3 linked regions of the Homo sapiens genome follow. The protein of the gene in region 3 interacts with the protein of the main gene of each other region in a pairwise test. Each region holds a gene or a part of one and is shown on either strand. Other genes may lie near its edges.

Evidence for each region. The genes of interacting proteins can lie anywhere in the genome.
Region 1: the proteins of ZNF574 (region 3) and POU6F2 interact in binary tests that used the Homo sapiens proteins (3 or more experiments, as listed by UniProt).
Region 2: the proteins of ZNF574 (region 3) and LHX3 interact in binary tests that used the Homo sapiens proteins (3 or more experiments, as listed by UniProt).

Annotation. Positions count from the first base shown.
Region 1 is NC_000007.14:39,204,881-39,211,914, reverse strand, and holds part of POU6F2 (POU domain, class 6, transcription factor 2), read right to left. Parts: intron 4,524-7,034; coding exon 4,295-4,523; intron 1-4,294. UniProt on the Homo sapiens protein: Probable transcription factor likely to be involved in early steps in the differentiation of amacrine and ganglion cells. Recognizes and binds to the DNA sequence 5'-ATGCAAAT-3'. Isoform 1 does not bind DNA.
Region 2 is NC_000009.12:136,202,123-136,209,655, forward strand, and holds the start of LHX3 (LIM/homeobox protein Lhx3), read right to left. Parts: upstream 3,007-7,533; 5' UTR 2,891-3,006; coding exon 2,812-2,890; intron 1,068-2,811; exon of another isoform or gene 918-1,067; coding exon of another isoform or gene 824-917; intron 1-823. Other genes in the region: QSOX2 (sulfhydryl oxidase 2 precursor), read right to left, coding at 6,606-7,153. UniProt on the Homo sapiens protein: Transcription factor.
Region 3 is NC_000019.10:42,079,133-42,082,053, reverse strand, and holds the end of ZNF574 (zinc finger protein 574), read right to left. Parts: coding exon 757-2,921; 3' UTR 502-756; downstream 1-501. UniProt on the Homo sapiens protein: May be involved in transcriptional regulation.

The DNA.
Region 1 (7,034 bases), on a different chromosome or scaffold from region 3:
TGAGTGAACCGGAATCATGGTTCAGCCAAAAGCCATCCAATGCAGTAGAGAAACGTCCTGGAGGGCGCAGGAGAAGACAGGGAGATGGGTCATTAGTCATTCTGGGTGTGGGGATTAGATGCCTGCCTCCTGCAGAGGAGAGGATGATACAGCCTGCAGCCTTGTGGTTTGCTGGATGCTCTAATGCCCAAATTCATTCCAGGTTCCAATGAGGCTGGGTTACAGGGCTGTTCCTAGGATCCTGCAAGATGTCTAACTCCTTACAACTGTGTATCTTCTTACAATAAGAACTCATCACTGATGAGACAGGAATCAATCTCTTTCTTGCTGGGAAGGATCTGAGAGAAAGATAAAATAATTCCCAGGCCACACATACAGGTTTTCTGCTGAGTTATAAGGTCTTTTTATCAGCAAAGCAAAACTTTCATTGGATAAAATCTCAGAGCAAGGACTTCAAGAGGGCTTCCACTATGTAAGAGAACTTCCCTTGGTCTTGAGGATATGAAACTCCTAACAGAAGCAAAAACGTTCCCACACATTATTCCTTTCTGTCATTCTCATCTGGAGGCCTGGGGTGGTGAGTGAGAGCGGGAGCATTAATAAGGACATTCACTGCCTTCATGTGGGTCATCCATTGTCATAAGAGTCTCTGATTCTGGCTGCTGGTGATATTGGGGGATGCCATGGACTGGGTGTTTGTTCCTCCCAACCCACCAAGTTTTTATGTTGAAATCCTAACCCCCAAGGTGATGGTATCAGCAGGTGAGGCCTCTGGGAGTTGATTAGGTCATAAGGGTGGAGCCCTCATGACGAAATTAGTGCCTTTATAAAAGGAACCCTGAGAGTTCTCTCATACCTTCTGTGGTGGGAGGACACAGTAAAAAGACAGACATCTATGAACCAGGAAGTGGGCCTTCACCAGAACCAAATCTGCCTGTGCCTTGATCCTGGACTTCCCAGGCTGCAGCACTGTGAGGAATACAATCTGTTGTTTATAAACCACCCTACCTATGGTTTTTATGTTATAGCAGCCCAAACAGACTAAGGCAGGGAGTTGCCTAATGAACTTTGAATAATCTCCCTAGATCAGCATTTCTTAAACTTTAATGTGCATGGGGATTATCTGGGGATCTTTTAAAAATGCAGATTCTGTTCCGAGAGTCTTGGGTATCTCGGGTAGAGCCTGAGATCCTGTATTTCCAGCAAGCTCCCAGGAGACATTGATGCCGCTGGTCTGGGGACCATGTTTTAAGAGGAGATTGTGATATGACCCCCGCTGTCAGAGTCGAGAAGAGCTGCTCTCAGTGTAACAGCATGTCATGAGTGCTCATTAAAATACATGTGTAAATCATGGCCTCCAAGGCTCTGAGAGCTATTCTGTGTGACTTGATAGGGGATGTAAATGAACACGCTCTCAATCACTTCAGTAAAAAGGAAAATATTTGAAAACTTATCCCTGAATTCCAAACCATTAAGAGACTGATGTCAGCAACTTTTTTTTTTCCTTTCATCCTAGCAAATTTGTGACTTTTGAGCTAGAAGAATAGACAGGCTAGAGGGCTGGGTAGGAAGGCTGGAGATAATTCCAGTTGGCCGAACTGTTTCATGAATAAAAGCTTAACACTTCACAATGAGGAAAAGGGCACTATTCATGACCAAGCATGTTACATGGTAACAGGCTGTGCTTCAGACTAGGTGTGCAGACTAGGTATGAAACCTGCCCCTCACAATGACCCACCAAATATGTTTTATAAAATCACTGGAGAAGTGGGGTGTTTATTATAGACGAGCAGACTTAAGAGTTGTTTTTAAAGACTCTGAAAAGCCTTGGGTTGATAAATACTGTATTTATTGTACAGGAAAGAGATGGGGGAAAGGAAACAGCCTTCTCCCCTCGCTGTTGACTGCATGAATGCATGTAAGGATTCCTTCTAAGGTACTGATAGTCCATTTACAAGACTCTCACCCTTAACTCTCACCTTTGAGAGAGGATGAGATTTGAGGTCATCCTGAAGACTAGCTCAGTCTCAGAACCCCTGCAGATGACCTTTCAGCCTGTCAGACATTCACTCACCATCCCGAGTCCCACTGCTTCTGCAACATAACCTGGAAAGCTCCACAAGCCATTGATTCTGCCTAGGGATTATCAAGGGCTGTGCAATAGGTCGCCTAAAGGTGGGAAAATCAGCTTTGGGATGGCTGCTGGTGGATTGATTACAAGGTGACCACTGGCTTTGCCCTTTAGGTGGTGGACATTTATCTTGGGCACTTTTGAGGCATGAGACTTTCCTGATTACCATCCTTATTGCCCTTGAACTTCTCGTTAGGATGACCACCTCTTTCTGGGTTACCTGAGACTTATACTAATTAGAAAGCTTTTCCTATAACCAGCTGATTTGCAACTGGGAGGTGATTTATTCTAATAACCTCATCACCTTCCCTCCAACGTCAGTCAAATTTCAAAGAGGAAGACAAAGGGGGAAATGTTCACTTGTGCTTGTGTAGCAGACAAGAGCTTGGGCGTCAACTCCAACCCACTTCTGAAGATGATGCTGAGAGGGAAATTGTGTCAGAAGTGCCCAGGGATAAGAAAAGCAAGAACTTTTGTTTCCCCTACTTAATCAGGCTACAAAGCTTGGGATTCCTTTTCTGAAACCAGAGGTGACTCAAAGAACCAAACTCCAAACTATACGCTAATAATGAACTTTGATATTTACAACAAACAAAAACAAAAGGGAAAATCTTGGTGGAAGAAGTCCACGTTGGACCAATCATTAATTTTGAACCCTTAAAAAAACAGGTACTAATATCTTAAGAATATCAAACTATGATCAAGAAATAACAAGCCTACTTTTTTTTTAAACTCTGATTTTTGGCAACCATCTTAACCAAGCAGGATTAATTCATGGCCTAGGAGCTCTTTGAGCTTATGTTTATTTATAATATTCAATATTCCCATAAGCACAAATGTTCCAAACGGAAGGCTGCATTTTGATAATGCCCATTTCTTCATTAAGATTTCATCATCCACCTACATTAAAACGCCTCTCCCTACACTTTGTTGCTTCGGCTTTCACCTTGTGTATTCCTGCTTTATTTGCTTAATCTTGAGATCTGGCTTCCCAGGCACTCTCAAATTTGAAACAAGCAAAGTTTGTGCATTAGCGTATCCTGGGCATGCATGATTTATGAATGGCAGGTTTCTTGGCACAATTTAATGGTACAAGAGAGACTTCGTTTTAAACATCAAAATGGAAGTCAAGAAGTGGCAACAATGGGTGGGGTAACAGAACATAGAGAACGGAAAGAAGTTTGGGTCAAGAGTGAACAGTTCTTACTTGGTCTGTTTCTTAGTCTTGTGGACTGATTCTCCGATAAATTATATGAAGCCCTAACATTTGACCAGCTAAAAAAGTATTTTAAATTGCTATTCTGATAACTTACCCAGACAGGCCCTCATTCTGCAAAAATTTTAATTGTTAATTTTATATATATATGAAGAAAACAAACATCTTTGACTAGTCCAAAATAAATTCATTTTCTCTTTAGCAGGCATCCTATTTATATTCAGGTCATTTTCCACCAAAATAATTACTCCTCTGACAGAATCTTTTGTAAATCAATCTATCAGTCAATGCTACCAAATCTTTTAAAGAAAAGTCAAAACCTTCATAATATCAAGACAACTACCCTTCCTAAGTAAAATTAGAGTCTGACTTGTTATATGTCCCTGTAGTATAAAGGCTCAACATACAAGTCTATTTTTCTCATTGCAAAATATGAGCTCAAATAACACAATTTTTGTTTAATAACTATAACTAAAACATACTTTGTAGAGCAAAATAATCATTAATAAATTATTCCAAATAATATCTTGTATTTGAGATGTTCCAATCACTTCAAACACAAAAAAGCAACCTCTAACTTTTCTTTACCCATGGCTAAATTGAAGAATTGGTGAGATGATAACTCAGGTCTTCAAATAACAACACAGGAATTTTACTTTTAAGTTTCTGATATGTCATGCAATGATGACTCATAAATGCTTCCAGGAGTCCTGAAAAGTTTTGATACCAATGTTAGGAAATGAGGATTGATAAAACCAATGGCTTGTGCAGGCTCAGGATTCACAGACAACTGAAAATTTTGCTTCCTGTGGAAGCCTTCCATATCATTTAGGGCAGAAGCAACTCTGAACCACATTCACCATTCTAGGCACATTTTTTTTTGCCCACTTCAGAGAATACTGGCCAACGGGTAGAGCCTTACGTGGCGCATGGACATTATGGATTACCTTGTAGATTTTGCAGTGGCAGAGTCATAATGCCTCCGGCTGCAGCTGCTGCCACCAGCCCTTGGATGTTGGTGAGATTCGCTGTTGGCAGTGTGAGAACCAGTCCTTGCTGGCCTCCTAGCTGTCCCGCCATGTTGAAGGGAATGAGGATTGGCTGGTTGAGGGCTGGGGGGCCTCCCGGCATCACGCCGGCCACAGCAGAAGCTAACTGCTGTGCCGTCAGAAGTGGCTGCAAGGAAACAGATACAGCTAGCTCACTTTCCTGTGGAACCAAGGCATGGGTTTTAAAAACATCTTCTTTCCACTTAAGTAGGGTCAGAAAGTTCCCGAAGAAGTACCAAAAAACATGCCCTATCTCATTAAAAAAAAATGATTGGTAGAAAAAAATTTTCAAAGTTGCATTTCATTGATTTCTTTGGAAAATTTCATTTGGTTTGGACTTCTTGTGAGGAACTCAAATATCTTTACAAGTAATAACTTACGTTTATATGCTACTCTTCCATTGAGTTTCCATTTGATCCTATCTTCATATATTTGAAGCTCTCAGCTAATTTATTCTCTGTTGTTCCAGAAAGAACTCATTGGGATCAGTGGGATTTTTTGATTCAAAAAGAGCAACGAAATACTACTTTTGACTTTTAAATTAACAAAAATAATGTAGAAAATTTACTCAATGCTGGAAAGTCTGTATTGACACCATTATGCAGATCTATGGCTGGGGGACATGTACACTAGCATAATCCTTTTGGAAAGCAATTTAGAAATAGATTATCAAGAGCTGCAAAAATATTTATCCCCCTTTAACTCAGAATATACTCCTAGGATATAGCTTGAAGATATTATTCAAAAGGAAATAAGATAACTGCATAAAAACATGTATTGTTTCAAAATACATAAATATTGAAAATAGCTTATTACAGTACTAAACTAGATGAAATATTGCATAGTCATTAAAATGGATCATTATGACACCTCTTTAGAAAAATAGAAAATGTTTATAATATGAGAATAAAATAGAAAGTAAGCTGGATAACTATTAAGTAAACTTGAATGATTATTGTTAAAATGGTAGAATTATGTATGTACAATGACAAGATCTAAAACAGAATGTAAGACATAAAAATATTTGATGTGGATAAAACTTAAAATCTTTGAAAATAATTCTTTTGTTATTACTCTAACATCATTTGCCCAATTAAAATGATATTATACAAACACATGTTTACATCCACTATGGATGGAACAGCCCTTCTCTGGTAGGGAAAGGCAACTGCTCGGCATGTTTTGAGTGCAGCACGTGGGCTCTTCACCAGGATGACATGGGAAGGATTCCTGCCCTGGTCAAGCCAGATGACCACAAGAGTCATTTGATCTTAGAGTCCTTGATTCAGGACTTTCATTGCAGCCTTGTGGGAGCCATGTGGAACATAATAATCCTGTATCTGTTGTTCTTCTACAAGAACCAATGCAAAACTCTTATGTGAGGGGTAGGAAATTAAATACAGGCATACTACTAAGCTCAATGTATAATAGCCAGGCACTATTCTAATGCTGTAGTTAATCTACCAATGAGATACAGAGAGGTTAGTAACTTGCCCAAGTCCCATGTCTAGTTGAGAGGGGGTTCAAGTTCAAGCCCAGGAAGGCTGCTCCACAGCCCATGTTTTACCCCTTTCTTGTATCCCCTCCAATACAAAGAACAGATTTAGAGAAGTGGGGCTGCTTTATCTGAAGAATGAGGGGAGGTGTGGAGAGGGCTAAGCCCATACTTGGCCATTCCCTGCAGTGTTCCTTTCAGGACCCTTTGGGGGAGACTCTGCAGAGCCCTAGGATTCTGCACAGCTGAGTTTAGAACTGCTGCTTTAGACCCCACAGGCCTTGCTCCTAATGTATTTGTGCACTTTGCTAAATTCACACCAAGTAACTGTGCTTCCCTTTTTAAAAAAATACAGTTATTCTAATGAGCAAAATAAATATACTTCGGGAATGTATACAAAATTATATGCTGGCCCTCAGATTCCAGGTGTTACATCACTGCCAATAGTGATATTATGGTAAGAGGGAAGGCAAATAAGTAGCTCTCAGACCATATATGGGTCATAGATTTGGGGGTTTTGGCCTGCAGCATTTTAAAAATAGGATTTGTGGGCTCAAGGCAGGGCATGCACTCTCCAGTTTGTCGGAGGGCCACCACTCCTCACTGACCTGGGCCTGTGGGGCTGCCTACCCAACCTGAAGGCATTAGAGTGTGTTACCCCCAGTATGTTCACAGGCAGGTGTGCAGACATACACACACACAGACACACATAATTACATGAACACACACACAATGTTACAAGCATAAAATTATAAAGCGTATGACACCAAAAATCCTGTTCCTGAGAGTCCCAGGAAAACTCTCTAGGCTTCCATAAGCCAGCAGACATTTCCCCAGGCTTTCTGTCCACAGGCACAGAGTGATCTGTCCTCCGAGATGGACTACGGGATCTGAGGCCATAGGGAGTCTTGGTGGCGAGTGGAATAAGAATGTCAAGGCCAACCCTCACTCTAAACTTGGGTGAGCCCTCAATGTGCTTAAAGTCATTAACTTCCAGGAGCAATAATGACAATAAAAGGGAGAGAAAGGCCCAAGTCTCAGCTTCTCTTTCCAAAAAAGCAGGATGAACTCTGAAAGCTTCACACTAAATGATAGAGGTAAAAAGGAAAAAAAAAAAAAAAAGCCCAGCCTTTTATAATTGTG
Region 2 (7,533 bases), on a different chromosome or scaffold from region 3:
CGCGGGCGCGCAGTCCTCCTTCCTCCCTCCCTCTCTCCGCCCCCCAGCCCCCGCGGCCAACCCCTCCCAGGAACCGTCGAAAAATAAATAAATAAGTAGGGAACCGCGAGCCCCCACAGCCTGGATGTAACCCCCTTCCCGCCGGCCGGTCCCTCTCACTCCCCACTGGCTCCGGGGCCTCCTTCCCCATCCTGCGGCTCCAGCTGGCCCGGGAGTCGAGGAGAACTGCCCAGGTTCCCTAAGAACCAAAGTGCTGGGAGCTAGAGTGGTGCCACCAGGAAGCTGGGGGGCCTGGAGAAGAGAGGCTTTTTCCTACAGACGGGCCCTGAGCGGGGATAAACCGAGCGGGTGTCTGTGGGCGCAGACGCTGAAACCTGACTTCGGGGAGACCGACGGTCGGAGTTCAGCTCGACCTTGGCCCCTGCATCTGACTCTGTTCCGCTGGAACGTGGAAAGAGTCCGGCTGGGGCGGCCTTCTTGGGGACCCTCCTGTCCCGTGGTCACTGCCCCGCCACTGCTCCCTGCGCCTCCTCCAGCCCAGGGAGCTGGCTCCGGGCTGCAGAGGTCTCCTAAGCCCACCCTGGACCCCCGAGAGCTCCCTGGCCGGAGCAGCGCAGTGCCACAACCTCACTCACTCCCTGACAACCCAGGCCAGGGGCCCTGCAACAAATACAGGCTGAGGCGCCCAGGCGCGGACGTTCCGGGGTCCTCGCGCCCACTCCCGCCCAGATCCTCTAGCTCCTGCCAGCCTCCGCGGCCAGGCCCGGAAAGGCCTGAGGATCTCCTGGTCTCCCCGGTGCAGCCACTCGGCCCGGGCACCCACCTCGGCGCAGGTCCGCCCTCCGCGCCAGCAGTGCTAGCAGCAGGTCGCCTCCCGCCGACTCCCGGGCCGGGCCCAGCTCCCCGCGCGCCTCCATGGGTCCCGCCGCCCGGCGTCGCCACTCTCCAGTCCCGAACTTTCCCGGGCCCAGCGACGCCACCCCGCAATAGCCCCGAACCGGCGTCCAAGCGACTCCGGGTGCTGCTGGGCGCTGCGCCCGCGGGCCGCCCTGGGGCCCGGAGCCTCTGGCCGAGCGGAGGGCGGAGCGGCCGGGGGGCGGGGCCGCGGGGCGGGGCGGGGCCGGGGGTCGCGGAGACCAGCCCGGGCCACTGCGGACTCTGAGCGCCTTTGCGCCGGGACCTGCGGTGCCCAGAGGCCGCCCCGCGTGCCCGGCCCGAGGGCGGGCACCGGTAAGGGAGGGCCCAGGTCAGGGCTTCCCGCCAGCGTTCGTCCCGGCCCCGCAGCTTCCTGCGCCGGAGCGGCCCAGAGGCAGAGGCCTGAGCTGGAGCACACGCCAGGAGGGCTAAGGTTCCCGGGAGAGGGGTCGAGAAGGCAGCAGGGTCCTCCCGCCGCTGAGGTTTGGCCTCGGGAGCAGCAGATGGTCGGCGGGAGCTCAACCCGAAACGCAGAAGGGGTGAGTGTGGCGCCGAGGGCTGCGTACCGGAACCGCAAGGTGCCGGACCGATCCCAGATGCTAACAGGCTTCTGGGCTCCACCCCTGGAACTGCGGCCCCGGACGGCTCAGGGAGGAAGGGCAATCCTTGAGAGAGAACAGGCTCTGTGTCCTGGACACGCAGCCAAGACCTCGGGTCGTGAGGGGCCGAGCTGGGGAAGCCCCAGGGCACACCTTCCATTTCCAGCCCCCAGCACTCCGGCTCCATTGGAACACGGTCCCTTACCTGATATTTCAGCCTCTTGCCCCAGTCCACACAGGTGAGCTCTCCAGAACCCACCTGTCCTTGCAGGCAGAGGGACGCACCCACCCCTGCCCAGAGGGCCCTGGGCCAGCACCAGCCCTGGGCAGCCACCCGGGGAAGAACACAGCAGTGGGTGGCCCTCGGCAGCACAGGACTTGGCAAAGGCAGGGGTGCCCTGGCAGTGCGCAGAAACACACAGGAAGGGTTGGGGGACCAGGGGCTGATGCCATCCTGCAGGTCCCTCTCCCTGTGGGTCTCACAGCAATACTCTGTCCACTCTGCCTATGGCTTCTGGACTGTGAGCTTTAAGGGCCCAGGCCCAGAAGGATGGGCACAAGAAACCACAGTCCCTCCCTCCTAGCTCCCAGCAGGTCCGATGTGTCCGTTTTGAGCAGTGGCCCATGCAGCCAGCTTTCTGCCCCTTCACTTTGCACAGCACTTGTTACCCAAGAAGGGCCAGGGCAAGGACACGCGGGTGCAAAGCCGAGTGTGTGCGGGCTGTGCTGGGTGCAGGTGGCTGAGTGTCAGCTGCTGCCGAAGCGATCAGGGGTCGTGTGTGGCAGGACTGGGGAAGGGGCGGCGGCAGGTTAAGGAGGCGGCCCACCCTGCTGGCATCTGGCCAGCCCTCCAACAATGCCTCCATTATTTCCCAGCGTCCGTGGTGATGGAATGGCCCTTGGGGAGGGTGGTTCAGGCGGGAGACACAGGCTTGGGTCCCCTGCTGTGGGGTCCAGAGACCTGGGCCGGGCTGTGTGCAAGAGCTGACGGGCACTGGTCACCGGGGGAACCTAGCACCCCTTGGTCGGCCCCATCGCCCCCCAGCTGTGCCTGCGATGCCCCCTTTTTTTCTAGGGGCCTCCACTCCAACCGCTGTCCCGCACTCTTGCAGGCCAGCGTCAGGCCCTCCCCGCCACCCTGGGATCTGGAAACTCACTCTCTGCAGTTTCCATCTCTGTGTCCCGCCTGCAGAGCGGCGGGACTTTCTTTGCCTGGCCGCTGGCCCTGCACGCACCCCCTTCCTCGCGCCTCTGCCGCCCTTGCCGTTTCTGTCCTCAGTGTCCTGCTGGGGCTTACCCCGAGTCCCGCCCAAGGTGCAGACGGCGGCGGCCCCGGGCCTCGCTCGGTCGCGCTCGAGCCCCGTTTCCAGCAGCATCGCGGCCACCAGGCCGAGTGGCGCGAGACGCGCTCCTCCTAGGTCAGCGTCCCCTGGAGGGTTCGGGGCTCCCAAGTCCCGCCGCGTCGTGCGGGGCAGGGAGCCCGGGAGCCACTGGGCCTGGCGCTGTCCGCGGTGCTGAAGGAGGCGCCCGCTGCCCGCCCCGCCCGCGCGCCCGCCCACCTCCCGGGGCCCCTCTCGTCGCCCCGGTCCCCACCCCCGCCTCTGCCCCGTGTCGGGCGCGCCTCCCTCCCTGGCTGGGTTGGGCCGCACTCAAGGCAGCCCCCGCCCTCACCCCTCTGAGACCCAGGGTGGCCGTGCCCGCTCCTCCCTAAGCTCCAGGCCCTGCTGAGGCGCTGGGATTCGCCGAGTTTCGCAGCAAGCGGGTCGTCCAGCCGCAGGGCAGGAGGACACTGACCCTACCCTTCTGGCGTGCAGCCTCTGGAAGGCAGTGCCCAGGCCGTGCCCCGGGGCAGCCCCATGCGTGATCAACTCCAGCCCAGGGCTCACTGGGGCACTCTCCTGCAGGTGTTTTGCTGGTCAGGGAACTTTCCACTCTTAACCTCCTTGAACTCAACCCCCAACTTCTGGGAGGAGCTCAGCCCGCACCCCTCCGGGCTGCCAGGAGGAGAGGCACCTGCAGTCCCCTGTAACAAAAGCACTGCTGAGGACTCAAGACCTTGGGCATAGGCAGGGCCTGAAGGAATCGCCCAGTACACACCCAGGCTGGTGTCTGCTCGGTGCCTGACGAGTGACTGAGTTACTGCCAGCCTCTGCACAGCCTGGCCAGGGAGGTGCCAACCGGCTTCCTCCACAGCCACAGGCAAGACTGTTGACCACTGCCCTGCCCCCACTGGCACAGCAAAAGTAGGGGAGGGGCAGAAGACAACACGGGGTCAAGGGCACCCCACAGAACACCACAAACAGCCTTAGCAGGACACTCACACCCAGGAAGCAGAGGGATGGCCACTCAAGCAAGCTGGGGGTCCTCTGAGGTGCCCTCAGGCTGGGCTGCCGCGCGTGCTCTTTGAAGTGTGTAGCTGACATGCATCTCAGCTGCCCTTTAACCTGTGTAAAATCAAGGGTCTTGTCCTGTGAGTCTCGTCCAGATCAGCTCCAGGGAGATGATCTATCACTGCTTTCCATCTTCTACTTTCCATCCGACCCTTGGGCTGTGTCCCAAAAGCCAATGATTCGATAGGAGAAACTCTAGGATTTCAGATGTCCAGTACGTGAACAAAAGAGGGGTCCATTCTGCACCCACCGCCTCTACCACAACTCCCACTGGTAGAGCTGGTTCACATTTCAAAAGAATCACCATTTTTTCAAATGTCAGATTTCTTTATTAAAATGTGCACATTATAGTTTACTTAAATACAAAATGTTCACTTTCCTTGCAGGTAAGAAATTTCACTGACATTTCCATGTCAATTAGCTTCTTTTTAATAAAAATCCTTCCACTGAAAATAAATAAGCATTTAAATTACTGAACTATTATATTCATTAGTCTCAATACCTCTTAAAATACTTAAAACTTTAGAAAATAGACTCTAAACATTGCCTAAAGGTGGCATCCAGCTCTGAGCAGGCCACACAAGGTGTGTCTGAGTATGGCCATATGACTCCTGGGGCCACCTCCACGACGGCCCAGCCCCACCGACGCTCTGCTGAAAATCCTGCCCCTCAGCAGGACGCAAGCTTGTTCCCCAAATAGTGGTGACCTCAAACTGCAATATGATGAAACCTGCAGCCAACACTGCCCTCCACAAGGGTTTCTGGAAAGGCTGAAGCTGGAGACGGTAAACCACAACACCGTCCCAGGTCACTCCAGGTCACCCCAGCTAAAGACATTCAACACCAGCCAAAAGGCTAAAGTTTAGTTTGAAGGGTTCAAAGGCAAATACACTGAAACCCACGTGTAAACCTGCCTGGTTTTCAAACTGGAAGAGAAACACTTTGGTGTCTTCAATAACCCAGGCCTGCACTGGATGAAGCAATGAAGGCAAGGTCACGGCTGCTAAAGCACAGAGGGGTTAAAAAGTGTGAAACCAGAAGCAACTCTCGAGTGAGACACGAAGCAGCAGGCTGACGCACCAGACACCGCTCCCACCAGACACCTCTCCCGCCAGCTGCAGGGCCCTGGGCAGCGTTCTCAGCCCAGCCATTCTGTGACAGTTGTTGAAAGAATCAGCTGTTGCCTTTTTTTCTCAAGCGACAACAATCACATCAATATTACATGGTCTTATGAATACATCCATGTCATCAACTTGTTAGTAAACACATGATTATACAACATAAAGTAGGCAAAGCGGAAAAAATATCTACAACCGTCAAAGTCTCTCTCTCTCTCATACACACACACACACACACACACACACACACACACACACGGGCACACAAATACATCTGAGCCTATTTTAGCCAAATCAAATTTTGCCTGTGAGACACACCAATAGCCACAAAGAATCTCAATATAAATGTTCCCAGAAATAGTGTATTTGTTTGTTTACATCTTCAGAGGCAACGGACCACTAAATGTTTTGGGTTTAAAAACAATGTTTAAAATTATCAAATGGTAAAAGACATCATGACAAAAGCTTGGGAGATCAGTGCCTGTGTGGAGACCCTTCCCAAAACAGCTTCAGGCAAAGGAAGCCTGGCCCCCTCCGTGGGCCGAGTGAGATGCTTGTGTGTGCAGCAGGTGCCTCTGTGGTGCTGGGTGAAGAGCAGACGACAGGGGGGGCTTTAGAAGTCTCCCTGGGGCCTACGCTCCCAAGGGCAGACTGCTCTCCTCCCCATCCCCCAACAGAGGGGCCTGTGCTCTAAGCACTGCCCGCTGAGCCCAGAGCTGCCCTCCAGGCACCCGCCGTCCCAACGGCCCCCATTTACTTGTCTCTCTCTTGTCACCAGATAGACAGACAAAGGCGCTGCCTCTGAGGGTTAAATGAGCCCCCATCCTTCCAACCCCCAGGTCCACAGCCCAAGGCCTCTGGGGGTTATTTTCTGAAACGCAGCACAGCCACAGAATTCCTTGGCTCCTCCCCTGTTGAAATCCCCACGTCTGGTGTCGAACACCCGGAGGAACAAGGAGAGCCCTCAGGAACCTGCCCTAGGGAAGCAGCTACAAACACAGGATAGTCCCTGGAGCACTTGCTTGGAGGGGCTGCAGAGGCCGACTGCGCTTCCGGCTCTGTCTGTCCCCGCCCGGCTAAAGGAAAACACTTGGCAGCCTGGAGCAGGGGGCGTGGGGGGAGCGGGGGGAGGGGGAGCGAGGGGAGTGGGGGGGAGCCAGGAGCCGCGGGGGGGATGGGCGAGGTTCTCCAAATACAAAAACAAGGCCCTGCAGGATGGGGCGGAGTGGAGGAAACGAGATGAAAGTGTGTGGGGAAGACTATCTGGCCTGGACTCTGCACCCTCTTTTCACATCTAGAAGAGTAAAAATACAGAAGTCTTTTTGCTGTAAGACCTGCAAAAGGAGCATGAACAGACTTGAGTACGCCAGGAATGCAAATATCCCCACAAAATTACCCCGTGTTCTTCCCTTGTTAGAAGAGCGTTTGTAAAACCAGGACTTTGAAGCCAAAAGGTGCCATCCGATGTGAAACCAGGCCCGCATGTTTATAAAATCCCTGATCATAAATATTAAAGCTGCAGGTGGCACGGGGCAGGGCTGCCTCCAAGGGAGCTTCCGCCGTGGCTGGCAGCACCCGGGCACTCACACGGCCGGGTGGTGGTGCTTGACCTTCCACCGCCTGGACCTCACCCGGAAGAAGAAGTACATCACCATGAGGAACAGGGATGAAGCCACGTACAGCACGACACAGAGACTCATGTCCAGGCTGGAGAAGTCAACCCCGAGGAAGGGTGCGGCCCCGCCCACCTCCTTGTGGGCCCCGGGCCCATCCAGACTCTGGAGTTTCCCGTCCAAGCTGTGATGCAAGCTCTCTGGAAGGGCAGGCCTGGGGCCCAGTGCACCAGGTGGACGGACGCTCTGGGTGTCTCGGTCTCCATGGGACACCTCTGGGGGAGTGAGTCTTTTCTCCTCTTCCTCACCCCTGGCCAGGGTTCCTCCTTCACTGGAATCCCCCTGGTCTGCGGAATACGTGTCTAAGAGGTTGTCGCGGCCATAGTGCTGCTTCAAGAATGTGAGCACGTGGCCTTCATCCCAGCTGGCCAGGCCCTTAATTTCCTCATGGCAGGCTGGGCAGAGGTCCGGAGTGGGCCACTGAAGCTTTGGAAACCGGGGATCCTCACTCAGATGGCCTAGGAAGAAAAGGAAGCGGGAGAGCCAGAGGGAAGGAGGCTTTGTGCAGCCACGTGCAGCGTGCGGCAACCGGACTCCCACTCCCACCCACCACGGGCCTCCACTGCCCTGGCCCAGGGTCCTGCCAGGCCTCCCTCCCTGCCCTTCCCACCACCCGTCCCTTGCAGTTCGGCCCAGATAACATCCTGCTTCTGCAGGCCCCTGCGCACGTGTTCCCCTCTGCCGGTTCCCATAGCCTGCAAGTGAGGAGACGCTACACGCTCGGCCTCCGCCACTTCCCAGACCACACCTGTCCCAAACCACCCAGCACTCCACTTCCAAAACGGAGCATGCAGCTCTCACCTGGAGGCCTTTCTCCGCACAGTGCTGCCTGTGTGCC
Region 3 (2,921 bases):
TGTTGGCTGAGCCAAAGTCCAACTCCAGGGGAATTCAAGTCACCACCTCTCATGAATCTTCCTACATCCAGACACATATTATTCAGAATCTCCTTTAATTCCACAGCTCTAGAGATCATGCCTACCTGCATTTGCTCTTGGGGATCAATGAGAAAATCAGATGGCCTTGGGAGACAAGGTCCACATCAGGCCAGGAGTCAGGGACAGGAGTGTAAAAATCTGATTTCTCTGAAAGTTCCTGCCACCAGTACAAACACTCTTGAGCTTTTCCACAGAGCCATGGGACCTCTAGTGGCAAGAGAGCCATGCTACCTCCATCTAGCAGTGAAGTGAAGGCCCTGCTATGAGAGCCATGCCCATGAACACCAGGTCATTCTCTTCAGCCCAGCAAATGTTTACTGAGCTCCTACTACCCCTAATACCTGCCAGGCCCACTTCTGGGTGTTGGTGATGCAGCCACGAGAGGTAAGACCCATGACTCCCAAATTCCACTCTACACACTGCTGGCAACTCAGTCTTTATTGATGGTTTCATTTTTGGGGTCACCAGTGCTAAGAGGTGGAAGGTGGGGGGGCACCTTTATGTGTGTCAAGGACCCCAGAGCACCCCCCTCACGAGAGAATAAATCCAATTTAGAACTTACAAGGTGGTGGGGATGGGAAGAGGAAGGGACACAGTATGTACAGATGCTTAAGGGGATGCTGGAGGGCCTTCAGCAACAGGGAATGGAGGTGCCAAAGAGGAAGTCGGGCAGAGTCAGCCACTGATCTGGACCCCCTCAGCCTCGGCCAGAGGGTAGATCTCAATGGCTTCCACCAGGGGTAGCGCCTCCACAGCAGTCTCCATGACGGCCAGGCCAACGGCAGCCTCCGCCTCTGCCAGCTGCTGCCGCACAGCTGCCTGATGCTGCTGCTGATGGGTCTTGCGGTGCTTCCAGAGGTTGGAGAAGGAGCGGTAGCTCTTGCCACAGTCAGGGCAGGAGTAGGGTCGTTCGCCTGTGTGGATGCGGCGATGTTCTGCCAGGCGCATGGAGATGGCAAAGGCCTTGCCACACACTTCACAGGCAAAGGGCCGCTCACCTGTGTGCAGGCGCCGGTGGTCTTTCAGGTGGGTACTCTGACGGAACGCTTTGCCACAGTCTGGACATGGGTATGGCCGCTCACCTGTGTGGATGCGCCGGTGCACCTGCAGTGACGTCTCTGTGCTGAACAGCTTCTTGCACTCGCTGCACTCTAGACCCCGGCGGCGGGCAGGGGCCGCAGGGGATGCTGTAGCAGTGCTTCCAAGGGCTGCTGGAGAGGCAACTGGTGCACGAGTGGCCCGTGGGGCTCGAGGGGCAGGGGGCTCCTTAGCCAGGACCTCTCCAGGCCCAGCAGCTGCATGGGCCGCCTCGTGTGCCTGCAGTCGAGCAGCTGAGCCCACTTTCTTGCCACAGGTGCCACACTCAAAGCGCCGTGGGGCCTGGGCAGCAGCGGCTGCACAGCGGTGCTCCCGGAGCCGCAGTGAGGAGGGGAAGGCAGCCCCACAGGATGGGCAGCGGTGGGGCTGGCGCCCGGCATGGACCACGAGCTGGTGCACCTCCAGCAGCCGACGCAGCAAGAAGGAGCGGGGGCACTCGCGACACTTGTAGGGGTATTCACCTGTGTGATGGTAGCGGTGCATGAGCAGGCGGTAAGGACGGTGAAAACGCACCCCACATTCCTGGCAGCGGTAGGGGAAGTGCTGGGCATGCACCAAGCGGTGCTGCCTCAGTGTGGAGCTTTGCGTGAAAGCCTTGCCACAGTCCCCACACCGGTAGGGCCGCTCTCCTGTGTGTGTGAGCCGGTGGCGGGCCAGGTTGGCAGGTGAGTTGAAGGGCTTGGAGCAGTCAGGGCAGGGGAAGGGCCGCTCCCCTGTGTGTGTGCGCAGGTGGTTACGCACGTGAGACTTCTTCTTGAACATCTTGCCACAAATGCTGCATTTATGGCGCCGCTCCAGCCGATGCACAAAACGTTGGTGCCGGGTCAGCTGCAAGGCCTTTCCAAATTCACGGCTGCACAGGAGGCAGCGGTAGGTGCCTGGGGCAGCGGGCCCTGCTGAGGTCTCCTCAGACACAGGGGGCTCAGGGGCCTCTGGCTCTCCAGTCTCTGCTGGGGCTGGCTCAGGGAAACCAATGACAGGTTCCTCTGGTGGGACTGGTGTTGTGGGCAGAGGGACACCCCCTACCCCATGAGTACGCCGGTGATAAAGGAACTTGGTAAGGTTGACAAAGGTCTTCCCACATGGACATGAATGCAGAGGATTCGGGGTGTGGGCTCGCCGGTGGGCCAGGAGGAGGGCCTCTGTGCCGAAGGCCAGGCCACAGTCTACACACAGGAAGTGTGACTCGCTGCTATGGTCTCCAAGGTGCTGGTCCAGACTGGAAGGGCTAGGGAAGACACGACTGCACAGGGGGCACTTAAAGACGCCCTCCCGGTGACTCCGCAGGTGCTGCTGTAGCTGGTGGGGTGAGAGAAAGAGCTGGTCACAGGCTGAGCAGAAGAGCTCCTGTGTGGCTGCCCCGCCTGCTTCTCCACTGTTGTTCCTCCGGGCCCTGCGCCCCCGGCGATCCCGCCCAATGGCTTCACCATTGCGCAGCTCGTAACTGTGGTCAGAAGCTGGCAAGGGGTCAGGCTGAGACACAGGCACCTCTGCAGGTGACGAGGCCTGCACCTCCTGCTGTAAGGCAGGCTCCTGAGACTCGGGTACAGGAGCAGGGAAGTGAGTGGCCTGGTGCTCCAGGAAATCCGCCGGCAGCTGGAAGAGCTGGGAGCACTCAGAGCACTTGTAGAGGAGCAGCTCCACCTCAGTCACTACCTCAGTGGTGGTGGCAGCGGCAGATGGGACAGTCGCCCCTTCCCCACCCTCTTCTGCCTTTCGGTATGAGTGCTCCACAGCCACTC